6 separate regions of the Homo sapiens genome follow, and regions 1, 3, 4, 5 and 6 are each reported to be linked to region 2. The links are microRNA targets in miRTarBase. Many come from high-throughput screens and were not tested one by one. Region 2 holds a microRNA gene; each other region holds the end of a gene's coding sequence.

What was found. Region 2 holds the annotated microRNA hsa-miR-371a-5p (ACUCAAACUGUGGGGGCACU, at 3,042-3,061, shown strand). A microRNA usually pairs through its seed, bases 2 to 8, with sites in the 3' UTR of a target mRNA and lowers its output. Matches are read on the target gene's strand: a 7mer-m8 pairs with bases 2 to 8, a 7mer-A1 pairs with bases 2 to 7 and ends in A, and an 8mer does both.
Region 1: miRTarBase lists CYTIP as a target of hsa-miR-371a-5p. The part of its 3' UTR that is shown has no 7-base or 8-base seed match.
Region 3: the mRNA of DCTN6 is a reported target of hsa-miR-371a-5p. The part of its 3' UTR that is shown has no 7-base or 8-base seed match.
Region 4: the mRNA of BCLAF3 is a reported target of hsa-miR-371a-5p. Seed matches in the 3' UTR shown: 8mer at 2,434-2,441.
Region 5: the mRNA of MFSD11 is a reported target of hsa-miR-371a-5p. Seed matches in the 3' UTR shown: 8mer at 1,396-1,403.
Region 6: miRTarBase lists CEBPB as a target of hsa-miR-371a-5p. Seed matches in the 3' UTR shown: 7mer-A1 at 2,699-2,705.

Annotation. Positions count from the first base shown.
Region 1 is chr2:157,412,013-157,416,087 of GRCh38, reverse strand. CYTIP (cytohesin 1 interacting protein) reads left to right here. Exons shown (of 8, transcript NM_004288.5): 8 at 1-1,469. The coding sequence ends at 411. Among named protein-coding and RNA genes, the nearest start is that of CYTIP, 30 kb to the left of the region's middle. RefSeq lists an enhancer at 2,337-2,386.
Region 2 is chr19:53,784,639-53,788,727 of GRCh38, forward strand. It overlaps MIR371A (microRNA 371a), which reads left to right and starts at 3,037; the gene lies at 3,037-3,103. It overlaps MIR371B (microRNA 371b), which reads right to left and starts at 3,104; the gene lies at 3,039-3,104. It overlaps MIR372 (microRNA 372), which reads left to right and starts at 3,252; the gene lies at 3,252-3,318. LOC124904767 (a long non-coding RNA gene) reads right to left here and starts at 3,587. Exons shown (of 2, transcript XR_007067336.1): 1 at 3,249-3,587; 2 at 2,384-3,121. It also overlaps MIR373.
Region 3 is chr8:30,182,457-30,186,545 of GRCh38, forward strand. It overlaps DCTN6 (dynactin subunit 6), which reads left to right. Exons shown (of 7, transcript NM_006571.4): 7 at 619-1,183. The coding sequence ends at 717. Among named protein-coding and RNA genes, the nearest start is that of DCTN6-DT, 28 kb to the left of the region's middle.
Region 4 is chrX:19,913,774-19,917,862 of GRCh38, forward strand. It overlaps BCLAF3 (BCLAF1 and THRAP3 family member 3), which reads right to left. Exons shown (of 12, transcript NM_001367774.2): 12 at 1-3,561. The coding sequence ends at 3,532. Among named protein-coding and RNA genes, the nearest start is that of SH3KBP1, 28 kb to the left of the region's middle.
Region 5 is chr17:76,777,652-76,781,740 of GRCh38, forward strand. MFSD11 (major facilitator superfamily domain containing 11) reads left to right here. Exons shown (of 13, transcript NM_001242532.5): 13 at 537-1,690. The coding sequence ends at 701. Among named protein-coding and RNA genes, the nearest start is that of LINC02080, 19 kb to the right of the region's middle.
Region 6 is chr20:50,191,271-50,195,359 of GRCh38, reverse strand. It overlaps CEBPB (CCAAT enhancer binding protein beta), which reads right to left. Exons shown (of 1, transcript NM_005194.4): 1 at 2,692-4,089. The coding sequence ends at 3,289. It overlaps CEBPB-AS1 (CEBPB antisense RNA 1), which reads left to right and starts at 3,291. Exons shown (of 7, transcript NR_125739.1): 1 at 3,291-3,696; 2 at 3,938-4,089. RefSeq lists an enhancer at 1,262-1,823 and silencers at 3,188-3,297, 3,718-4,089.

The DNA.
Region 1 (4,075 bases), not on the chromosome of region 2:
TTTGGACCCCTGCCTGGGCCAGGCCCAGCCCTTGTGGACCGGAATCGATTATCCAGTGAGAGCAGCTGTAAGAGCTGGCTGAGCTCCATGACGATGGACAGTGAAGATGGCTACCAGACGTGTGTGTCTGAGGACTCCAGCAGGGGTGCCTTCAGTCGGCAGACGAGTACAGATGATGAGTGCTTTATCCCCAAGGAGGGGGATGATTTTCTGAGGAGGTCATCTTCAAGGAGGAACCGGAGCATCAGTAACACCAGCAGCGGATCCATGTCTCCCTTGTGGGAGGGCAACTTATCAAGCATGTTTGGGACCCTGCCCCGGAAGAGCAGAAAGGGAAGTGTCCGAAAGCAACTCTTGAAATTTATCCCTGGCCTTCATCGTGCTGTGGAAGAGGAAGAAAGTCGCTTTTGACGGATTGTGGTGTCCTTTCAAATTAGCTTATTTCACAAATATCTCTAGACTCACCCAGATCCCAGCTTGGTGGGAAAGTGCAGAAGAATTGCAAAACTGACATCCCATTTCACAGCAATAGTGACCTTTATTTAAATTGTTGTGTTATAGTTTATGCTTCTTAAATCATTTTTCAACCTAAACAGCCAATTTCTAAGCAGACAGGAAAACTAAATAATAAGTTAATTAATATAACAAAGATGCAGGTTCCTGCTCATTCCAGTAATGTCTTTGAAAGCAAAACTAATATTTATTTTCTAGATTATCCCTGTGAATAATTGAGAACTTTTTGGAGTCAAGTATGAATAAAGGTGTGGCAGAATATAATAATCTGGACTATTTTCTATAGGATAATTGCTGGGTTATAAAATCTTAGGTTTGCTTATGCCCAGTAGCTCCTGCGGAGGCTTAATAATAGGCAATTTTGAATTTGTTCAAACCTGTAATGGCTTGTAAACAAAGATGACCATCAGCTGTTTCTCACATCTATAGTGACAATAAAGCGGGAAGTATAAGATTTAATAGGAGGGGTTAAGGTTCATGAGAACCATGGAAAGATGTGGTCTGAGATGGGTGCTGCAAAGATCATAATAAAGTCATTTTTATAGACAGTCTAAACAAAATGGGTGGGGATGTCGTGTTTTTTGCCCAATTCAGCTTTTGTTCTGCCTGAACATTAATGGCAAGTCTAGAACTCTCCGAATCCTACAGCTTTGTAATTTTTTTTCTACAAATGTCTAACATCCAAAACTGAGGGTTGGGAAAAGGACTTCCCTCCTGTAGTTTTTTTCATATTACTTCTCACTTTATATCTTATATTCTAAATAGCTATCACCTCAGCAGTCTTTTGCCTATTGGTTATGTTAGTATCACATTACTTCTAGCCTTTCAATTACTCCATGTTTTATTTAATATCCATTGAAGTCTATGAATTCTCTGTTCTGGTGGCACAGCTATTCATAACCTATATTCTAGAGTAGACAATCTGGACTATGTAATAAATAGTCTGCTGATTTTAAGTTCTCTCTCTCTCTCTCTCTCTCTCTCTCTCTCTCTGTGCGTGTGTGTGTGTGTTTGGGAGAAATAGAAACACTTCAATTTAAGTAGAGCTGCTAAATTTAATTAAACTTCTGCTTAAGAAATGAGTTATTTTGAGATAAAAGAGGGTAGGGTAAGGAAGCATCTAAGATGAGAAAGAAATGATAAAGTATGAAAAGATTTCTAGTTGGGACTTGCCTTCTATTAACTCTTTGAACTGAGAAACATCCAGTGGCCTGTGCATGACAGTCACTCATATGAAAGGCAGGGTGTCACACCTTTCACAGAAATGATAGCAATACTGTCTACCATTTACTGAGTACCTAGTTGGCTAAAGACACTTTACGTATGATCCTCACAATTACTATATAGTAGGTGTTAGGCATACAGATAACAAGTCAGGAATTTGGAAATGTTCTCAGGGTCACAAGGCTAGTCAGTGGCAGGGCTAAAATTGGAAGCCAGTTCTTCCTTGCTCTAGTCTATTCCAGATATCTTTTACTCTTTTGGTTCTGTTTAGTGATCATCACAGTACTTTTTATTCCACCCAACAGGAATACTTAAAATGTACAATTATAGATGCTGCACAGATAAGAGCATTTCTTTGGGTAAATAGGAAAACAAACATTTCTCTGTTCCTCATATACAAGTTTCAGACATAGGTTCTTTAATAACTACATGATTAGCAGTGCATTTATTTTCAACAAGAGCTTGCAAACCAGTTATGATTCAACTGGTATTGCTTATTTCTCATCATAGTCTAGAATCATCCTGTTAAAGGTCTACTTATATGAATTCAGCATTTCTTGTTATCCTATTTCACAAAGTCCAGGGGAAGGAAACACCACATTTATTTGAGGAAAGATGACTTTGAAATCTTCTACAAGGTGAAAAAATGCTTTGAGAACTACACAGAATGACATAGGTCATACGGGAAAGCAGACCATAGATCATTTGCTTTTCTTGTGATTTTAATACAGAAGTGTAACACTGCTGTATGACAGTAGACCTCAAATGCAAAAAAGGGGCAGGGAAGGGACGGAGCAAGCATCACTTTAGTTTGCGGTAAGAATTAGAGTCGAGGTATGTTCTGAGAATAAAGAAAAAAGTACTGGTTAACCAAAGTACAGGAAGGAAGGGTATGTCATGTTCTATATTTCACAAGCTGTAAGAAAATTAGCTTTTGTTTAGTAGAAATGTGGGTAAATTTCTCACAGTATAACTTTCAGACTAATTTATGACTTCAGTCAGGCTTTAGAAGAAACTTCTGGTGCATAGTGATTCATTCTGATATAATTTACTAGGGAAAAAATTGAAAAGTGTTTTTTTAACTTGAAAGTTCTCAAATATGTATTACTGGTGAATTCCATTAATTGACAACCTGTTATGAAAATGCATTTTTCTAGAAGGGCATTTGATAAACCAAATTTGAATCAAGTAGATTGGGAATTACTTTATCATGTGGCTGAAGAACACAACCATGACAAACAGATTAGTAATATATTTTTGGAAGTGAACTTTTATTTATGACTTTCTACCTTGTAATAATTTTATATCTTAAGATACAGATAGCATTTAAAATCCCAGTTTGCGCTGAATAGATCAAACTTGGAAATAGTATGTGTGTCTTGATCACCAAAGTACAGACATTTTTGAATGTATACATACTAAAAATAGTAAGTAATACATAACTATATTGAGCCCCTCAGATCATAAAAGTATTGTTATTTTATATCCATTTCCTTACATACCTATGGGCTACAAAATCAAAATTTGATGCCTTTATGAAATAAAGAATGCTATTTTTCAGTGTCAGGACTTTCTCTCTCTTTCTCTGTCTCTCTCTCTCTCCCTACATTTCTCTCTACCATAAAGAAATAATTGTCTTAAAAGCAGACTTTTTAAAAAACCTGGGTGATTCTCAACATTTACTTCTTTGAGGACCTTAAAAGACACTACTTACTTAATTGAGACTTTGCACTATTAGCTTTTTTATTGCTATTTAACAAATTACTGCCAGGCATGGTGGTTCACACCTGTAATCCCAGCACTTTGGGAGGCCGAGGTGGGTGGATCACCTGAGGTCAGGAGTTTGAGACCAGCCTGACCAAGATGATGAAACCCCGTCTATACTAAAAATACAAAAATTAGCCGGGTGTAGTGGTGCATGCCTGTAATCCCAGCTACTCCGTAGGCTGAGGCAGGAGAATCGCTTGAATCCGGGAGGTGGAGATTGCAGTGAGCCGAGATCACACCATTGCCCTCCAGCCTGGGCAAGAAAAGTGAAACTCCATCTCAAAAAATAATAATAATAATAAAATAAAAATAAATAAATAATAACCACAAACTTAGAAGCCTAAAATATATTTATTATCTCAAAGCTTCTGTGGGCCAGGAGTCTGGGCACAGGTTAGCTGGATCTGCTCAGGATCTCACAAACCTGCAATTTACTGCAATTTTGGTGTTGTTATCTGGAGGCTTGATTGGAGAAGGATCAACCTTTAAGCTCCTTCAGGTTGCTGTCAGAATCATTACCTGGTGGCCATACAATTCATGGCAGCTTGATTCTTAAAGGCTGGTAATGAAG
Region 2 (4,089 bases):
TGCAGCCTTGAACTCATGGGCTGAAGAGATCCTCCCACCTCAGCTTTCCAAATTGCTGAGATTACAGGCTTGAGCCACTGCCTGCAGTCCTCTTTCAAATGCACTTAAAAATCGTCTTTGACTATACTCTTTGTTGAATGTTGATTAAATTCAATTGCACTAATAACATTTTTTATATTCAAAAATACAAACGTTGGCCGGGTGCGGTGGCTCACGCCTGTATTCCCAGCACTTTGGGAGGCCGAGGCGGGCAGATCACCTGAGTTTGAGAGTTTGAGAACAGCCTGACCAACATGGAGAAACCCCGTCTCTACTAAAAATACAAAATTAGCCGGCGTGGTGGCACATGCCTGTAATTTCAGCTATTCGGGAGGCTGAGGCAGGAGAATCACTTGAACCTGGGAGGCGAAGGTTGTGGTGAGCCGAGATCGAGCCACTGCACTCCAGCCCGGGTGGCTGAGGGAGACTCCGTCTCAAAAAAAAAAAAAAAAAGTCAGCAATGAACTCGCTGTGCTGGCCCAAGGGCAGGAGAAGAAAGCCGCCCTTAAAGGAGAAATTTGCAAAGACAAAATGAGGTGATGAGAAAAAGCCGAGTTCTAGGAAATACCCGAGAGATCATCCAGGTGGTTCACAAATAGCAGAAAATCCAGGTGCAGTGTGAGAGGAGTGAGTAGGTTAGATAGGAATCTGGATGGCTGAGCTGTAAGGACATAAGCACTGACCTCCCGCAACCTTGACAAAGATCAAAGCAAGAATTTTTTTTTTTTTGAGATGGAGTCTGGCTCTATCACCCAGGCTGGAGTGCAGTGGCGTGATGTGAGCTCACTGCAACCTCTGCCTCCTGGGTTCTAGCGATTCTCGCCAAACATGCTATTTGCTGTCTCATTTCTATCTCTCGCCATCCTTTGCAGCAAATGCTGTACATTTTCATTGATGAAGGAACTAGGTTTAACCAGAAAGGTTGAGCACGTACTCCCGCAGCTGGCTAGGATTACAAATGGGAAGGAAACCCTGGCCTCCTGGGGCCCCAAGTCTTCCCCTTCCTTGAGTCATTCATTATTTTGAGCACTTACCATTTTCAAGCCCCTCCTCACCTCTCCAACACCCACCTTTTTGAGTTCCTCTCTATGCCTCAAGGTCAAAGGAACTCTAGTGGTTTCATTAAATAAAATCAGAAATGTTTCCGCTTTTTTATCAAAGTTGCTCTCAAAAATGTTCACTGCCGCACTGTTTTTTTCTTTTCTCCCTCTCTTTTTTTTTTTGAGACTAAGTCTCACTCTGTCGCCCAGAATGGAGTGCAGTGGTGTGATCTCGGCTCACCGCAACCTCCACCTCCAGGGTTCAAAGGATTCTCCCACCTCAGCCCCCTGAGTAGCAGGGATTATAGGTGTGAGCCACACCGCACCCAGCTTTTTTATTTTTTTAAAATTTATTATTATTATTTTTGAGATGGAGTCTCACTCTGTCACCCAGGCTGGAGTGCAGTGGGGCGATCTTGGCTCACTGCAACCTCTGCCTCCTGGGTTCAAGCAATTCCCCTGCCTCAGCCTCCCGAGGAGCTGGGACTACAGGTATCCACCACCACGCCGAGCTAATTTTTGTATTTTTAGTAGAGACCATGTTGGCTAGGATGGTCTCGATCGCTTGACCTCGTGATCTGCCTGCCTCGGCCTCCTGAAGTTCTGGCATTATAGGCATGAGCCACTGTGCCCAGCCTATTTATTTATTTTTTGAGACACGGTCTCACTCTGTCCCCAGGCTGGAATGCAGTGGCACAATCTTGGCTCACTGCAACCTCTGCCTCCCGGGTTCAAGCAATTCTCTTGCCTCAGCCTCCCAAGCAGCTGAGATTACAGGTGCACACCACCATGCGTGGGTAATTTTTGTATTTTTTTGGTAGAGACGGGGTTTCGCCATGTTGCCCAGGCTAGTCTCGAACTCCCGGCCTCAAGTGATCGTCCGCCTCGGCCTCCCAAAGTGCTGGGATTACAGGTGTGAGCCACTGCGCTCTGCCAAAATACTATATTTAAATATTTGTTGAGTGGATGACTGGTGGAATGATTTTCTTCTGGTTATTTCTCTGTGTTTTCCAATGTATTTATAACGAATACATGTTGGCGTTACTAGTAATAGGGATCACCTAATTTCTATTTGAATCAGTGTTTGAAAAAGTTTATGAAGGTGTGTCTGACTAAGGCAAGCTAGGATCAAAGGGAGCAGGGTGGCTTGGGGCGGAGACCAGGGGGAATGAGAGGGTGGGAAGGGGTGGGCTTTAATCCTATCAAAGTTGAGTGGGCTCTCACCCTATATAAGAACGCAGCTGCAGTGAACCTTGTTCTTTCTGGCAGACCTGAGGTGTGGACGTATCATTGGCCTCTGTGAGTATTGCTATGTTATTTTATTTTCTTTCATTTTACTTTATTTTTTAGGGTCAGGATCTCACTGTCGCCCAGGATGAAGTGCACAGGTAGGATGATGGCGCCTTGCAGCCTCGACCTCCTGGGACTCACCCTTTTAGCCTCCAGTAGCTGGGACCACAGGCGCGCACCACCATTCCCATGTGCGTTTTTCTGCTTTTTTTTTTTTTTTTTTAGGAGAGATGGGGTTTTCTATGTTATCCAAGCTGGTCTCGAACTCCTGGGCTCAAGAGCAATCCTACCACCGTAGCCTTCCGAGTAGCTGGGACTACAGGCTTGAGCCACTCCGCCCAGCCGGGCTGTACTTTTGTTCTATTTCTGTGATTTTTTTTCAGTCTTAAGGACGAAGGCCCCACTGTCCCTCACACGTGTTCCTTCCTACTTGCATTGTACTCAGTCCTCATGGCTTGCATCTGGAGGCTATGGGCGGGGGAGTGCTTTGAATATCTATACGTGGAAAGCCTTGTTTTTTACTTTTTAAGAAAGGGTCGTTAAATTCGTGCTTTGTAGACCTTCAACAGCTCATCAAGGGCTACTCTCCACCTCCTTGCTTAAAAGCCTCTTCTGATGGGTAAGTGCTTCCACTTGCGATCGCCGCCTTGCCGCATCCCCTCAGCCTGTGGCACTCAAACTGTGGGGGCACTTTCTGCTCTCTGGTGAAAGTGCCGCCATCTTTTGAGTGTTACCGCTTGAGAAGACTCAACCTGCGGAGAAGATACCATTTTGATTGGGTGAGGGGGCGGGTAGCAGGATGGCCCTAGACCCTGCCTATGGCCGTTTCCTCGTGATATAAATTTCTTGGCCGGGGCTCTTGCAGATGGAGCTGCTCACCCTGTGGGCCTCAAATGTGGAGCACTATTCTGATGTCCAAGTGGAAAGTGCTGCGACATTTGAGCGTCACCGGTGACGCCCATATCAACGGATGCCGTGGAGCTCGGTCTTCTGCAGGAACTAAAGAGCCTGTGGTTTCGATTCCCAGCCGGAAACTGTCTTGGGTACAGGTCCCTTACAGCGTCTGGCTGTAATGGCTCCGGAAAACCTGGGGAAGGGAAGGGGGCCTCCTGGGCTCTCACCTGACACAACTAAGGGAATCTGGGTTAGATGGTGAAAGGAAGAGAAGGTTCAGAGGGCGGCTGTGCGCCTGCGCCGGGCGCGGCGGCTCACACCTGTAATCCCAGCACGTTGGGAGGCCGAGGCAGGCGGATCACGAGGTCAGGAGATCGAGACCATCCTGGCTAACACGGTGAAACCCCGTCTCTACTAAAAATACAAAAAATGAGCCGGGCGTGGTGGCGGGCGCCTGTAGTCCCAGCTACTTGGGAGGCTGAGGCAGGAGAATGGCGTGAACCCGGGAGGCGGAGTTTGCAGTGAGCCGAGATCGCGCCACCGCACTCCAGCCTGGGCGACAGAGCAAGACTCATTCTCAAAGAAAAAAAAAAAAAAAAACAGCAGCTGTGACCAAGGGGCTGTATGCACAAAGAAAGGAATGCTTTTTGCTGTTGGTGTTATAATTGATATGTAACTTTCCTCTTCCCCCATAGCAAGCAAGTTTATTGCTGACATTTAACATGTGCTTGGATGATTGGAGGCCAACCTCTTGTAGGCAAGAAAGTCACAGTGATGGCAGATCCTCGCGAGGAGCTCATACTGGGATACTCAAAATGGGGGCGCT
Region 3 (4,089 bases), not on the chromosome of region 2:
TGTAATCGGAACTTTTAACTTTTCAGAAGCCAGGGTGAAATCTACAAAAGCGAGTTTTAAAACTGATTTCTGTATATTTTTATATAAATATATAAAATCTGTTGGCTTTTTCTTGTAACCAAACTTAGTATATGTTCCTTATAAATTAAAAAAAAAAACAAGCATGTAAGCAAAAATGAGTCAATGAAAAGCACCTGTAATTCCACAACTTATTAATAACCATTGCTACCTGGAACTTTTTTTTTTTTTTCTTTGAGACAGGGTCTGGCTCTGTCACCCAGGCTGGAGTGCAGTGGTGTAATCATGGCTCACTGCAGCCTCAACCTCCTGGGCTCAAACAATCCACCTGCACCCCTGCCGCCCTGCTTCCACCTCAGCCTCCTGAGTAGCTATGACTACAGGGGTGTGCCACCACACACAGCTAATTTTTAAATTTTTTTAGTGACAAGATCTCCCTATGTTGCTCAGGCTGTTCTGGAACTCCTGAGCTCAAATCATCCTCCTGTCTGGGCCTCCCAAAGTGCTGAGATTACAGGCATGACCCACCACGCCTGGTTGCTGTGTGGTACTCTTGACTTTGCTTTCTGCCAATCGGCCTTAATTACCTTATCTTTTTAGCCCCAGACACTACAGCTGGATTTCTTGATGAAAATCTTGCCAAATTACCACCACCTAAAGAAGACTATGAAAGGAAGCTCAACTCCAGTAAAGAACTAAGAACAGTGTATAACATGAAGATAACATTTTGTCTTTGACCACTGTCTTTTGAATGGGCCCACAGTGTTTATGTACTCTTAACAACTCACAGAATAATACATGTTCACTTTATTTTGTAAAATTGGGTTGAGAGGAAACTAATGGAGTTTCATTGTAACTGTCCTTTGTAATTTATATAAATGTATTATTTTCCTATATCCTTGGTTCTTTTCTGATAATTTACAGATTTAGCTTTTCTTTTGTTATATAAACTGCTAGCCACAAATTTTAGTTATGTAAAAGGCTACCCTTGACAAGAAAAGACATACTGTCATGTATTTATATTCTAGCATAGACTAAACTGAATAAAAATGCTGATAACAGGACCTTTAGTAAGCATACTTTAATCAGTTTTTCTCCTTGAATTAATCTTTTCTCTTAATTTTTATTATGTACTAGTTGTATTAAAGCTAATGTGTTTACTTTTTCCTCTTGTGGATTTGTAGCTGTTTAAAATTTCAGGTGAATTTCAGTAGCTATTGAATTAATTTAGACTTCACTTTGTTTTTAAGAAAAGTACAATTTTTTCTTTTTGGTAAAACAAAAGTAATCAGGGAAAGATGTTTTCAGTAGAATACAAATTAGTGGCATTCTTGGGTTTCTGAGGACAATGAAACTAAAAGAAATTTTGAAATTATACAAATTTATGAAATTATTAATATTTTAGCATAGTGCTAATCACTAATCATTGAGCTTTATTATTCTGTTGTCTATGTAGTGAGCAAAATGTTGAGAATTTTATAATTCCAAATTTTTAAAATAATTCAAGTGCATAAATTTACTGGAACATACTTCTCAACTTTTGAATTAGTAGATATTGACTAATACTAAGATACTAAAATACTAAGATATTCTCTCAAAATTTAATTTTTATTTATTTATTTTAGAGACAAGGATCTCACTCTATTACCTAGGCTGGAGTGCAGTGGCACAGTCTGCTCACATGGATCACTTGACCTCCTCAAACTCAAGTGATCCTCCCGCCTCAGCCTCTTGAGTAGTTGGGACTATAGGCATAAGCCACCATGCCTAGCTTTTTTATTTTTTTTAACTTTTTGTGGAGACAGGATCTCGCTGTGTTGCCCAGGCTGGTCTCAAACTCCTGACTCAAAATTTAATTTTTAATTGTGAATAGAAAAAAATATATTTTTGAATTTCTGAAACTGACAGTGCAAATTAGCGTAATCATTCGAAATTGGAATGATTTTGGTAAGAATACTCATGACTAAACTTGGAAAACTATACTGTAGCAGATGAAACATTGAGCTTTTGAAAAGGAGAACATAAATACCCTATTTCTGTTAACTGCTATTTATTCATTTTTCAACCCCCTGGTGATCAGTTCAGAATGTTGTTGATCATGGAAATTTTCTAGATAAAAGAAATGAGAAATTACAAGACAGTCTTTGAAATTCTTTACTGGTTCTAATGTATTCTCTTTGGACAGGCTCTGATATGCTAAGTAAATGGCCTCTCCAAACTACACAGGTACTATGTGGGGCAGCAGTGAGATACCTTCTAAGGACTTGATAAGAAGAAACCACCAGAGAGTCTACACATAGTGAGGAGAGTCTCAATGCTTCCCAGGTACACTGTAGGTTATTACATGATATTAACTCATTTGAGAAAAGAAAACCGAAATTATCAACTCACCAAAATGGGGTTTGAAGAAACAAAATATGACAGTGTGTATACAGTGTTATCCGTGAAAAGGAAGTCCTGCATCCAAGAGATGTGAGTAATTCAGTGACCAAAAGTGTTCTCTACTTCAGTTAGGACTAGTTTATCAAGACCCAAGGTATGTGGCTTAGGGAGAACATACCTTGAGACTTGCCACTTCTTTTGGCACTAATTACAAGCCTAACTGAACCATCTTCTGATTGTTGATATGGCCTTTTAAGCTATTGTTGTTCAGGAAAAGGGAGAATTCTGCATGAGGGCACCAACATTTCATTCTGCACATAGTAAATTTAGAGAAATTCTCTGGTTTATATGTCAGTCTCATGTGAATTTTGTGTGTGTGGTTCTGCCCCCAAGTTTGTCAGTTTAGCCTATGAGTTTCTAAATATTCTGATGAAACATAGTTTCTGATTCTTCAGGATAGAGAACCAAAGCCCGGACAGATTATTGCAAACTTCACTCTTTGGGGCTTCTGCATAGCCAGGCTGTCAGCCTTCTTCTAGTGGCACTCTATCTCACTTGAGACTACACTCAAACTGCATCCCAAATATTCTAGACAAATAAGCTAAGTGGTAAGGAGAACCCAGACATCCATGTGACATGAGGTAGTAACTGGGCAGGGAAAAGAGAGAAACCATTTTATCAAATCATCTTATTGCAATCTGGCACTAGCTCTTCGGGCAAGATGATGGATCTTCACCAGTTGAACAGTGTAAGGTCTAGAAACAGTGATGAAACTTCACTTCATCCATAAGCACACACTGTAGTAGTTATGTATGCTGTGTAACAAATTACCCCCAAAACTAAAACAACACACATCTTATTAGCTCACTCAGTTTCTGAGAATCAAGAATCTGTGTGTGGCTTAGCTGATGCTGGGGCTGCAGTATTCATTTCCAAGATGGCACACTAACATGGTTGTTGCCCGAAGGCCTCAGTTCATCATCACATGAGCCTCTCTACAAGGCTACCTGGGTGTTCTCTTGACATGGCAGTTGGCTTTCTCCATAATGAGTGATCCCAGAGAGGATGGAAGCCACAAGGCCTTTCATGACCCAGTCTCTGAAGTTGCACACGATCATTTCCAATGAATTTGATTTGTTAGAAGTGAGTCACTAAGTCCATTCTACACTGAAGGGATGGGGAATTAAGCTGTACCTTTTGAAGGCAATAGCATCAAAGAGTTCATGCTCATATTTTTATTTTTTATTTTATTTATTTATTTATTTATTTATTTATTTTGAGACAGAGTCTTGCTCTGTCACCCGGGCTGCAGTGCAGTGGCACGATCTCAGCCCACTGCAGCCTCTGCCTCCCAGGTTCTAATGATTCTCCTGCCTCAGCCTCCTGAGTAACTGGGACTACAGGTGTGTGCCACCATGCCTGGCTAATTTTCGTATTTTTAATAGACAGGGTTTCACCATTTTGCCCAGGCTGGTCTCGAACTCCTGACCTCGGGTGATCCACCTGCCTCAGCCTCCCAAAGTGCTGGGATTACAGGCGTGAGCCACTGTGCCCAGCCCATGCTCATATTTTTAAACTCCAGCATGTATGTACACATCCATTTACATCTGGGTTTCTCCCAGTGCACTATCAGCATCTCTTTAGAGAGTCTCCACACTGGGAGGAAGATGACTTTGGGAAGGACTGCTG
Region 4 (4,089 bases), not on the chromosome of region 2:
TGACATGACACCTGGCCATGAATGATGAGACGGTTAGTTCTTAAGTCTTTATCCCACTTTACCTCCTCCATGTCTGAATTTGTCAATGTACATTAATTTTTCTTTGTCAAGATTTATAACATTTACATACTATTCTACATCTATGATTCCTCAGTTCTTAAATGTTCATTCTGTATTTTAATGGACTCAGAGCTCATAATCATCCTATTTGACGGAACTTTGTTGGGGAACCTGGTATCCCCTCTCTTCTAGGTTCCCATTAAATGTCCAGAACCAGAACTCACTAGACACAGTCAAAGGTGTCTCTGACTTCTGCAGGATTTGGCTTTCCCAGGCTGCTCTGAGACCTGGGAAATGCCTAGTCCTGGTGAATCTTACCCCTTCTGCTGAGGTCCTGAGATGGAAGCAAAGACTTCGTTGTCCCAAGAGTTTTCCTTGACTCTCCTCCACGTGGCCTGGTCACCTCGTCAGTGCCTTTGTCCATACTGGGGCCCACTGTTACCAATATTTTTGTCATCTCCATTGTTTTACTCAGTGCTACTTCTGGGGATGGGCGAGGGATGAAGTCATACCACACCTTGTTGCATCAGCTTCTTCTTCCTTCCTTGCTTGGTTGTTCCTGGTGAATTTGTGCCTGGTGGTTACTGAATTTGCTGGGTAATAAAGACAATAAGAGTTTCTCATCCAGCTTTACTTTTCTTGCTTCTGCCTGGAAGTATCCCCGTCTTTTTTTTAAAAAAAAAACTATTCAAAAATGTAGGATTTATTAGGTAAAATGTGGTACATAGTATACATCTACATAAATTGTTACACATAAATGTAGCGAGTTTTTTTCCAATAGAAAAAAATGAAAATGTATCATCTAAAATATTTATAATAGTGTTCTCTGTGATAAGACTATGGGCAATTCTTCAAATTGAAATTTATGTTGAAGTAACTCTAGATTCACATGCAGCTATAAAAGAAATAATACAGAGAGATCCCGCGTACAATTTACCCAGTTTCCCCCAATGCATCAATTTTTAAAACCAGTAAAACCACCAACAGAATAGTGCCTTCTGAGGTTGGTGAAACCAATAGGAAAGAAACATGACGAGGGGATGCTGAATCAGAAATGTCAACTTTCCTCTCAACCTTTTGTATATATGTCCACTAAAGTACTTACTCTACATTGTGATTCTTTGTTTTTGTGAATCTCTTCTTCAGCAGTGCATGAGCTTCCTCACAGCAGGGACTGTGTCTTATTATCTTTGTCTTCCCAGTACCAGCGAAGGGCCTAGCACGTAGTGGAGGAAGGTGAGGAGGCAATGGTAGGGGACTTATCAAAAAAAAGAAAAAAAAAAAAAACTTCTCTTCTCAAGTCTTATGCATTCAAGAAGTCAAATTCTTTCCAGTCAATAAAAAATGCTATGGATAACCTTTTGTTCAATCTCCATATGAAAATTACACATGTAGTTCCTAATAAACATATTCTATTATTCCCTATTTATTCATTCATTATTCAACTAATATTTAATGAACTCTTACCACACGTCAAATAGGAAGCTGGGTGCTGGGGATACTATGGTGGACAAGACAGACACGGTCCCTGTCCTTATTTTATACTCTAAATTATAAAGTTGGTTTTTCCTTTTAGGCTTTAGATCTTATACACACAATGTTTTCTGCACAGGTATTTTGCAGATAACACGCTTTGCATATTGAGACAGTGCCAAAAGAATATCCAAATAGGGAATCAGTTGTGGAATGAATAATAGTAAATCAGCCATCTTACCTTTATGTGTTACAATAAATAAAAAGCGAGCTATAAAGGCGATTTACCAAGTTATATTTCTGTTTAATGTCCATTTTTCCTATTAGACTCTTCGTACCATAAAGGCAGGGTCCATGTGTCTTGTCTTCTTGTTCATTGCTGTAATTTTAGTACAGTATCTGTGCAATACATAGTTGTCAATCAAATGATTAAATATTCAAAGCTCATTACTGTCCCCTAGAATATGGGAGTAAATGAAATCAATTATTTTAAAATTTAAGACAGATTTTATAAGTACCTAACACAATATAAAGTTGCCATACTACCTGTGTGCATGCATTTCTTTCTTACCATAAGTGGAATGCTAAATATGTTTGGAAAACCTGACCTATAGAGATTGTACACAGTACAAGACAGGCCATCTACCCAAATTTATTACCTGCTTAGCAATGAATCAAGTGCACTTGCCCCCCTTATCATGAACTCACTTAAGGAAAAGGCTGCCCTCTCTTTTAAAGATATGGACAAGAAAACTGAATGTACTAAGATTTTTCACATCCAGTCATGAAAAACCAAGTTCTTATCAACCTTCACATTTTAATTTTGAAAGCTCTGTCTTTGTAAGCACAGAACAGTGCTTTAAACACTGTTTAAACAGAGGTGCTATCCAAGGCTATAAGTCTCAAACAAAATTAAAATAATGCTCTCACAAACTGGCAAGTAACTTATTTAAGCAGAAAGAGCAACAACATTTTATTTTATTACAAATAAACATTTCACAAAAATGTAATTGGGAATGTATATGTACTGTTAAGCAGAACACAGAAAACATAAAGAAATAAGGTATTGGGGCCTAAAAATTTCATTTAAAAATCCCATCCATTTGCTCTTACACATAGTAGGTATGCAATACATATCAACTGAACTAAAAGTAAACACTCTATAAGATGTGCTTGCAAAATGTGTAATGCTGTAGTAGTAAAGTACAATTTTCAAATATGAGATTTTGTTTGTCAGATTTTTAAAAAGCCTTTAAAAATATGATATGCACAAGCTTGCCCTGAGGGAAAAATAAGATGGACTATAGATTACAAAATCTTTACATATTTTCCACAATAGCATTTTGAAATTGGAAAAGAGCAAATAGTTGTGGAAAAAAACTGAATGAACATATTACTAAAAATTCAGTGCACTCACAACTACCTGATGGAATATTTGAAGCACCTTGTCTCTTGCCTTCTTATAATATGAAATGTATGAATTATATAGGCCTTGATCTTCAGAAACTTAAGAAAACTTCGAGTTATAAGCCAAAATGTCATCAGAAAAAGAAAAATCTGGTATAAAATTTTCTACCATAAGGCCACTGTTTAAAGTTCTTTCATGTAAAGACACTATACAATTCAGACACTTGTTTTTGTTTTTATTATGTAAGCAAAACTTTCAACATATAAACGTCTGAATATTACTTGGTGAAGTTCTCTCTATGAAACCATGCTCAGAGAAAAATGCATCAACAAATAATGCCCTTCAAGTGATTCTTTTGAGACTTTTTGCAAAGGAAACTGTAGTTAATACAACTTTTAAATTGAATACTGTAATTTAAAAGCAATTGTTAGGTGTAAAAAAGTTGCAGCATTCCACTACTAAAAAATAAAGTTATTTTATCAAGAAGTTACAGTATTAGTGCCTTAGTGTCACTTCTAACTCCTGACAAAAAGAGAGAGATGCTCCCAAACATCCTCCTGTAGCGTCATTTCCATTTGTACGATTTCAGATTAGATTCCTGTGGCAACATCTGTATATTCCTATTGAGAGAAAACAAGAGAAATAAAGACTTCAAACAAAGTGTCAAACATCTGAGCTAGTTTTGTTTACACTGCAATTTTCAAAGTATTTTCGTTTATACAGTGTTACTTGCACCCCGAGATTCCCACGAAGGCATGTGGAACCCCAAAGGCGCAAAGTAACAACAGAACACATCAAAGCAATATCGCATGATAAATCAATAGGACAAAGAAAACATGTGGTGCTAGATAACATTGATATTAGTAAATTGATGAAAACAGTCTTCTGCTATTTGGGTGAGTTTCAGTGAAGGCATCCCTGGCATAAAATCAAGACTCTTAAACCTTTGGCTCTCAAGTACGGAGCCTGACACTACACACGCACACCTCAAATTAGTATTTTATCTTTTCCACCCTATATCTCTAATTCTAAAACTACATGGGCTCTTTTAACTGACTGATAACTGCAGAGAAAGTTATTAGAGGGGGAAATGCCTTCTTACTTTTGGATGGTTGACTACAGTATAAAAAGGTGTAAGGCTTCAATAA
Region 5 (4,089 bases), not on the chromosome of region 2:
TGACTAGAATTAGGAAGCAATGAGCAGTAAGATTTTTTGTGTAACAGATTTTATGTTCTGGTCTCTATGGCTCTGATTAGAGATTTCCTTCCTTAGATACCAGAATTCTATTCATTTGTAATACAGACAAGTGTATTTCTTACTCTGTACATTCTTGTTACTCCAGTTTTCCACAAAATGCTATTTTTGTTTCATTTTATTTTATTTTGTAGAGATGGGGTCTTGCTATGTTGTGCAGGCTGGTCTTGAACTCCTGGGCTCAAGCATTTCTCCCACCTTGGCCTCCCAAAGTGTTGGGTGGCATGAACCCCCACACCTGGCCAAAATGCTATTTTAAATACCAGGAACTGTGGCAGGAGTTTATGGTGCATGTTTGTGAGTCAGTGACTGAGGAAGTCATACCTTGATGCAGAAAGAATAGAAAGCACTGTGAGTTCCAGGTGTCCTTGGGGCAGGATAGGAGTGGGGCTAGGGGCTAACTGTGGCTCAGTGTGGCCCCCGGTGCGCCCGTTGTGATTTGTTTTGTTTGTTCTTAGTCTATTTGCGCAGCCGTGGCATTTTTCTACAGCAACTACCTTCTCCTTCACTGGCAACTCCTGGTCATGGTGATATTTGGGTTTTTTGGAACAATTTCTTTCTTCACTGTGGAATGGGAAGCTGCCGCCTTTGTAGCCCGCGGCTCTGACTACCGAAGTATCTGATCTGGTGTCCGTGAGGGGACACGTATGACCTCAGAAACACAGCTGGACACAGAGCTTGGTGGAAGAAGTCGCCTTTGATCTTCACTATATATTGGGTGATGTTCAGTATGGAAAATCAAGGGATTAAGACTGTTAAATCAGCCAGAGTTGGTGTTCAAGTTTACAGATATGAGTTATTTAAAGCAAGTAGAATAAGGGAAAGCTGTTCTGTCAACTGTAATTGTTCAAAGATGTTGTTTTTCATTTCATCTATCTCAATTCTTATAATCATGTTATAGAATGTAAATGTTTTCTTCTCTCTCCTGCTCTTGTTGGAAGATCCTGCCTTGATTTAGAATACTAGGCCATATGTCATATAAATATTTTTTCTGGATATGGAGTATGTTTTGCCATGTAATAATGGGAAGCATATGTCATTCCCCATATGTGTTGGAGAATGACATTTAAATAAATAGCAAAGCTGGGTGTGGTGTTGCACCGCTATACTCCCAGCTGTTGGGGAGGCTGAGACAGAAGGATCACTTCAGCCCAGGAGATTGAGGCTGCGGTGAGCTATGATCACACCACTGCACTCCAGGCTGGGCAACAGAGTGAGACCCTGTCTTGAAAATAATAATAGGCTGGTCACAGTGGCTCATGCCTGTAATCCCAACACTTTGGGAGGCTGAGGTGGGTGGATCACCTGAGGTCAGGAGTTTGAGACCAGCCTGGCCAACATGGTGAAACCTCATCTCTACTAAAAATACAAAAATGTGTTGGGTTTGGTGGTGCATGCCTGTAATCCTAGCTACTAGGGAGGCTGAGGTAAGAGAATTCGCTTGAACCTGGGAGGCGGAGGTTGCAGTGAGCCGAGATCGTGCCATTGCACTCCAGCCTGGATGACAAGAGTGAAACTCCATCTCAAAAAAAAAAAAAAAAAAAAGAAAAGAAAATAATAATGATAATTTTTTAAAATAATGAAAAATAAATAACAAGATGCTGAAATGAAATATTGATTTTGAAAAGATGTCTTCCTCTGTAAATGTTTCATTTGATAAGTTTTCTTACCTTGTAGCTCATAGCAAGGAGTGGCCAGTTAAGTATTATGAAATAAGGTAAAAATTGTCATAAGTCTTTTTTAAAATTTATTTATTATTTATTTATTTATTTAGAGACGGAGTCTCACTCTGTCGCCTAGGCTAGAGTGCAGTGGCGTGATCTCAGCTCACTGCAACCTCTGCCTCCCGGGTTCAAGCAATTCTCATTCTTTAGCCTCCCAACTAGCTAGGATTACAGGCATGTGCCACCACACCTGGCTAATTTTTGTATTTTTAGTAGAGATGGGGTTTCACCATGTTGGCCAGGCTGGTCTGGAACTCCTGACCTCAGGTGATTCACCTGCCTCGGCCTCCCAAAGTGCTGGGATTGCAGGGGTGAGCCACCATGCCCGGTCCTTTAAGTCTTAAGAACAGGGATCTAACATCTGTAACAACAAAAACATTGAAAAAGACAAACATATTTACTGAGGGAGGACTTTTGCTAGCAATTTTCCTGGAAGATGCAATGCAGAAACCCCCAAACAAACCTGGAATGAGATCTGAGCTGCGTCATCAGGCCAGTGTCACACCGTCATTTATGTGTCCTCCTCGAGCAGTGCAAGTCTATCATCCTGGGTGCGGGAATGGAACATAACTATTTGGGGAGATGTTAAATGGAAGTGTTAGCTTCCCTCCATAAGAGCTCACTTAAATTTTTTTTTTAAATTGAAATCAAATCCAGAAACCATAAAAATGTCCCATTTTAAAGTGTACATTCACAAGGTTGCATAACCACCACAATGATCTAATTCCAGGACATTTTATCACCCCAAAAAGTAGTCGCTGCCTGTCAGCAGTCATTCTTTCTCATCTGGCATGGCAACCACGAATCTACTTTCTGTCTCTATAGATTTGCTTATTTTGAACATTTCATGTAAATGAGACAGCTCAGTTTTGTTTTTTTTTTCTTTTCAAATTTTTAGTAGAGACAGAGTCTCCCTATGTTGCTCAGGCTGGTCTTGAACTCCTGGGCTTAAGTGATCTTCTTGCCATGGCCTCGCAAAGTGCTGGGGGGATTACAAACAAGAGCCACCGTGCCTAGGAAGAGCTCACTTTTGTTGTTGTTGTCTTTTGGTTGTTGTGTATGTGTTTTTTTTTTTTTTTCAAGACAGCGTCTCACTCTGTTGCCCAGGCTAGAGTGCAGTGGCGCAATCTTGGCTCACTGCAACCTCCGCCTCCCAGGTTAAAGCGATTCTCCTGCCTCAGCCTCCTGAGTAGCTGGGATTACAGGCATGCACCACCCCGCCTGGCTAATTTTTGTATTTTCAGTAGAGACGGGGTTTCACCATGTTGGTCAGGCTGGTCTCGAACTCTTGACCTCATGATCCGCCTGCCTCAGCCTCCCAAAGTGCTGGGATTACAGGCGTGAGCCACTGCGCCCAGCGGCTCCAGATTTTGAAGTTCTGGTTTTCCTTTTTGAAGCTGATATAACCTCCATTGGCTTAGTTGATCCTATATAAATAATTTACAAATGCCCTTTTAGACTTAACAGTAGTGATTTATTATCTCTTTAAGCACATTATTTATCAAGGTGTATTAGTTTTCTAATGTGCCATAACAAATTACCTCAAAACGTAGCCACTTAAAATAACACACATCTATTTCATCACAGTTTCTGTGGGTCGGGAATCTGCGCATGGCTGAGCTGAGTCCTGAGCGTCTCTCCAGGCTGCAGTCCATGTCTCTGCAGGCTGCAGTGAAGGTGTGTTCCAGGCTTCACTGGGGGAGGGCCTGCTTCCCTGCTCACTCGTATAGTTGTTGCAGGAGTCAGTTCCTCACAGACTGTCAGGCTAAGTAAGGATCTTGGTTTCTTATGGCTATTGGCTAAAGATCGCCCTCTGCCCTTCATCATGCTACGGAGTAGTCCTCAGGGCAGCCTACGACATGGCAGCTGTCTCCATCAAAGGTCACAAGCAAGGACAGCTGGAGAGAACGAGAGCAAGACAAAAGCCGCAGTCTCTCATAACTTCATCACTGTTGCACTCTGTCTGTTAGGTGCCAGTCACTAGTTCCAGCCTATTCTCAGGGAGGGAATTGGTGGGGAGCATCTTACAAGGCTGCCCACCTTGTCACCTGTCACACTGAGACTTACATGGAAGGTGACAACTGGGTCCTGTATTCCCAAGCCTCGCATTCTCCAGGCCCTTGCTCTGTTTGCTCATAATGGATCTGTACAACCCTGCTGGCAGAAGGAGGTGAAGCCACCTCTGTTAATGACACTGAGAATTTTAATCTGAGGAAGCCATGGCATCTTGTCACCCCTAGGATTCCTGGTGATTATTGTCAAAAGGGAAAGGAAATGAAGTGAAGTG
Region 6 (4,089 bases), not on the chromosome of region 2:
ACACACTAAATGGGTCTGTGGTTAACATGACCGGCTTTCTCCCACATATCTAAGGACCCAGCACCTCCCTCTGTGCCAAGGGCTTGGAGTGGTGCTTTGCACATCTAAGCCCTTGTCTCACACCTGCTATTATCATGATTCCTCAAGGCTCGTCCCTGGCCTCCTGGGCTCGCCTCACCCCATCCCACCCCCTCCTGTTTCTGGATGTCGGAATGGACTGGTTCCTCCCTGCGAGCCCTTCACCCTTGCAGCTTGGTGAACTGTGGGGTTGGTGTTGCCCTAACTATGACATCTCCCCAAGTCCTTTGGGCACAGCTCCGTCCACAGTGCTCCCATACCAAGCCACCGTCAAAGCCCTCAACCTGTGAACTGCTTCTCCCAGCCCTCCTTAGAGGCAGCCCAAGGGGTTCAGGTTCAAATTCACTTTCTGTTGCTTCCAAACTGTGAAACTGATGTTTGCAGTTCTGGGGCTTGGAGTGCCTGAACTTGAGGTCAGGCAAGGAGCCCTCCAAGAAGAGCCTGGGATTTTAAACAGGAACTGGGATTACAAACCAGGCTCCCAGCCCCAAACTTTCCCCATAGACTTGGGAGTCGGATGGTTTTGTAACCTGCTCCACCTAGCCCACCTTGAGCACAAACCTCACTTCTGTGGACCTCAATGTGTGCTTTTAGAAATGGGTCTAGCACCTTCTGTGGGGTACTGTGGATGAGAGCAAGATGTGAGTGTGTGAAGAACTGACTCAACGCTGGTTCCAGGACAGCACTGGGGAAACAGAAGCGAAGCTGTGGGGCAGACGGGGGCGGAAGAGGGGCACCGTCTGGCCAGGCTGCTTCCCTCTCACCTCATTTGGGTGAGCAGTGGCCACCAGCCAACTCTTGGTGACAAAGGAGGGAGCAGGGATTTGAGATTTGTTCCTCAATTTCGACCCTCTCCACCTCCCTCCTTCCCTAGGTCCAGCCCCTCAGCCTCTGCCTTCAGCAAGTAAATCCTTGAGGTCAAGCCCACATTGCTGTCGCTGCTACTGACAGAAACCATCGAGACCAGTGGGGCTTGGGACTGAACTGACTTCGAGGCTTTGAAGGCATGCCCGGCCAGTTGTCCAGTTGCCCAGGGCTGGGAGGGGACGTGGTCAGGGCCACGCTGCAGGTCCCAGGTTGAAGTGAGGTTATCTGTGTCCAGCAATCTGCATAGCCCTCGAGCCACCATCAGGAGACACTGGCATTAGGGAGGTGGAGCTTATAGGAATCCTCCGCTTTGTGGCGGTGGGGGATGAGTGTCGCTGTCTGTTCCCCACATCCCAGGCTCCCACAGGGAAAGCACAACCAGGCCCCCAAAAGGAAAAGGAGGGGCAAAGCATTTCCCATTCGCGAACCACGGTATCAGCAACTGCTCCTGAGATCCCAGACCGCCCCAGGTCCTTGGCAAACCAGGCTACGATGCCTGCTGCCCCTGAATTCCTCAGGGCAGGGCAACCCCCAACCAGTGTCTTGCCCATAGGGATCGGACAGCCCAAAGCTGCTCCCCACCTCTAAAAACAGGCGTCATAACAATCCCCACCTTCCCAAAGGTTATTGTGAGGTCTAAATGGGATGGGGCAGGTCCAGTGTTTACCAGATGCCGGCCCCTGGCAAGTACTGGCCACACTGGCGCTGCACTGGAGACTGGGGTGCCAAATGCCAGCAGCTTCCCAGCAAAAAATAATAACAAGAGCAAGCGCTTATATAACACTTCTTGCGTGCCAGGCACTGTGGGACGCTGTACATGTATCCACTCACATCCATCTACATCCTCAACTCTCAGGAATGCCATCCAGGGCTGGATGGGAGTAGGGGGTGCGGTGAGAAGCCGGAAGGGGCAAAGGGATCAGTGGGCAGGGAAGAGGAGCCTGTCCCAGGGAATCAGGGCTAGCAGCCCCACGTTTGTGCCTGGGCTCAGCCACCTTGAGCAGGCAGGTGAGGTGGGCTCAGTGTCCAAGTCTGGGCAAAGAGAGCAAGTGATGAGCCTCCCATCCTCAGGAAAGGTAATCAAAGTGTGGGAACCCCTCCCCCACCTCTCTCCACCTGGCCTGGCCTCTCCCCTCCTGCTGGCCAGGGACACACAAACACAGACTCGCCCACACACCCAGGCTCCCCTCTTTAAAATACACATGTATACACAAACTGTGTTTTAAACAACCCACCCCACTACACTGACCAAAAGCATCTGCCCTGACTCGGGCTCAGCAGGACCAAGACCTGAACCCCCTCCTCCTACAGTCACAGGCCTGCCTACCTAGTCCCCAAACACAGGGCAGGGGTCACAGACCTCCCAGCCCTTCCAAACCCAAGCCTGACACTCGGGACCAGCCAGAGGCTCCGGAATCTCTTCTCAAGCAGGGTTCCCAGCCACCCGTCCCGGCGCCTAGGGGCTCTGAGTCAGCCTGAATGCCTGACCCATTACTCTTCTCCCCTTTCCCCCGGGGCTGGAACCCCATCTCAAGCAGACCCTGTGTGTGTGGGAGGGGGAGTAGCAGAGGAGGCAGAAAAACCAGCTGCAACACCCCCACCCAACCACCAAAACCTCCAAAAATAACAGCAGCCCCCCACACACAACCCCCTACACACCAGAAACGCAAAAACAAAATCCTACAAATCCAAAATAAAGTAAAAAAATAAAAAACAAAAGCCAATTACTGCCCCCAAAAGGCTTTGTAACCATTCTCAAAAAAAAGTTTATTAAAAGTGTTCTTAATGCTTGAAACGGAAAAGATTCCCAAAATATACAGACGCCTCTTTTCTCATAGAAATAGATTATTTTTTATAATACAAAAAAAGACCAAAAAACAAAACAAAACAAAACATCAACAGCAACAAGCCCGTAGGAACATCTTTAAGCGATTACTCAGGGCCCGGCTGACAGTTACACGTGGGTTGCGTCAGTCCCGTGTACACACGCGTTCAGCCATGTTTAAACCGATTGCATCAACTTCGAAACCGGCCCGCCCGCCGGCGCCTGGAGAGGGGCAGAGGGAGAAGCAGAGAGTTTATCATTCATCTGTACACATAGACGTTTCTTCTTTAAATAACACCACGGGCGGGAGCCCCATCTGCATGTGCGGTTGGTTTGGACAAAAATATAGATATATATATATAATAAAATATTAAAATTACCGACGGGCTCCCCGCGCTGCCAAGTGCCCCAGTGCCAAAGTTTTGCCGGCGCCGCCGGGGGCGGGGGCGAGGGCGCGGGCGCGGGCGCTCCCCGGAGTCTCAGCCCCGGCCGGCAGGGGGACGCGCGCGGGGGCCGCGCTAGCAGTGGCCGGAGGAGGCGAGCAGGGGCTCGGGCAGCTGCTTGAACAAGTTCCGCAGGGTGCTGAGCTCGCGCGACAGCTGCTCCACCTTCTTCTGCAGCCGCTCGTTCTCGGCCGTGAGCTCCAGGACCTTGTGCTGCGTCTCCAGGTTGCGCATCTTGGCCTTGTCGCGGCTCTTGCGCACGGCGATGTTGTTGCGCTCGCGCCGGATCTTGTACTCGTCGCTGTGCTTGTCCACGGTCTTCTTGGCCTTGCTCTTGACCTGCGAGGGCGCCGGCGCGGCCCCCGCGTAGCAGGCGGTCGGGGGCGCCTTGGCGTCAGCGGGGCTCGGCGTGCCGGGCGGGCTGGACGAGGAGGACGTGGAGAGGCTCCCGCTGCTGCCGCTCGGCACCGCCTGGTAGCCGAGGTAAGCGCGCAGCGCGTACGGGAAGCCCGCCGCCATGCCTGCGCCGCCGCCCGGCGCCCCGGCCTCCTCCTTCCGCTTGCAGTCCGCGGGCTCGAAGCCCGGCTCCGCCTTGAGCTCGGCGGGCGGCGGCGGCGGCGGGGGCGGTGGGTGCAGGGGCGCGAAGCAGCCGGGGTGCAGCGCGCCCTTGGCGGCCCCCAGGCGCCCCAGGCTCACGTAGCCGTACTCGGCCGGCTTCTTGCAGTTCTTGCCCCCGTAGTCGTCGGAGAAGAGGTCGGAGAGGAAGTCGTGGTGCTGCCCGGAGGAGGCGGGCGCGGGGGCGGGCGCGGGCGGAGCCGCCTCGAAGGTGTCCGTGGCCGTGGCGGGCGCCGGGGCCTGCGGCGCGCCCAGCGGCTC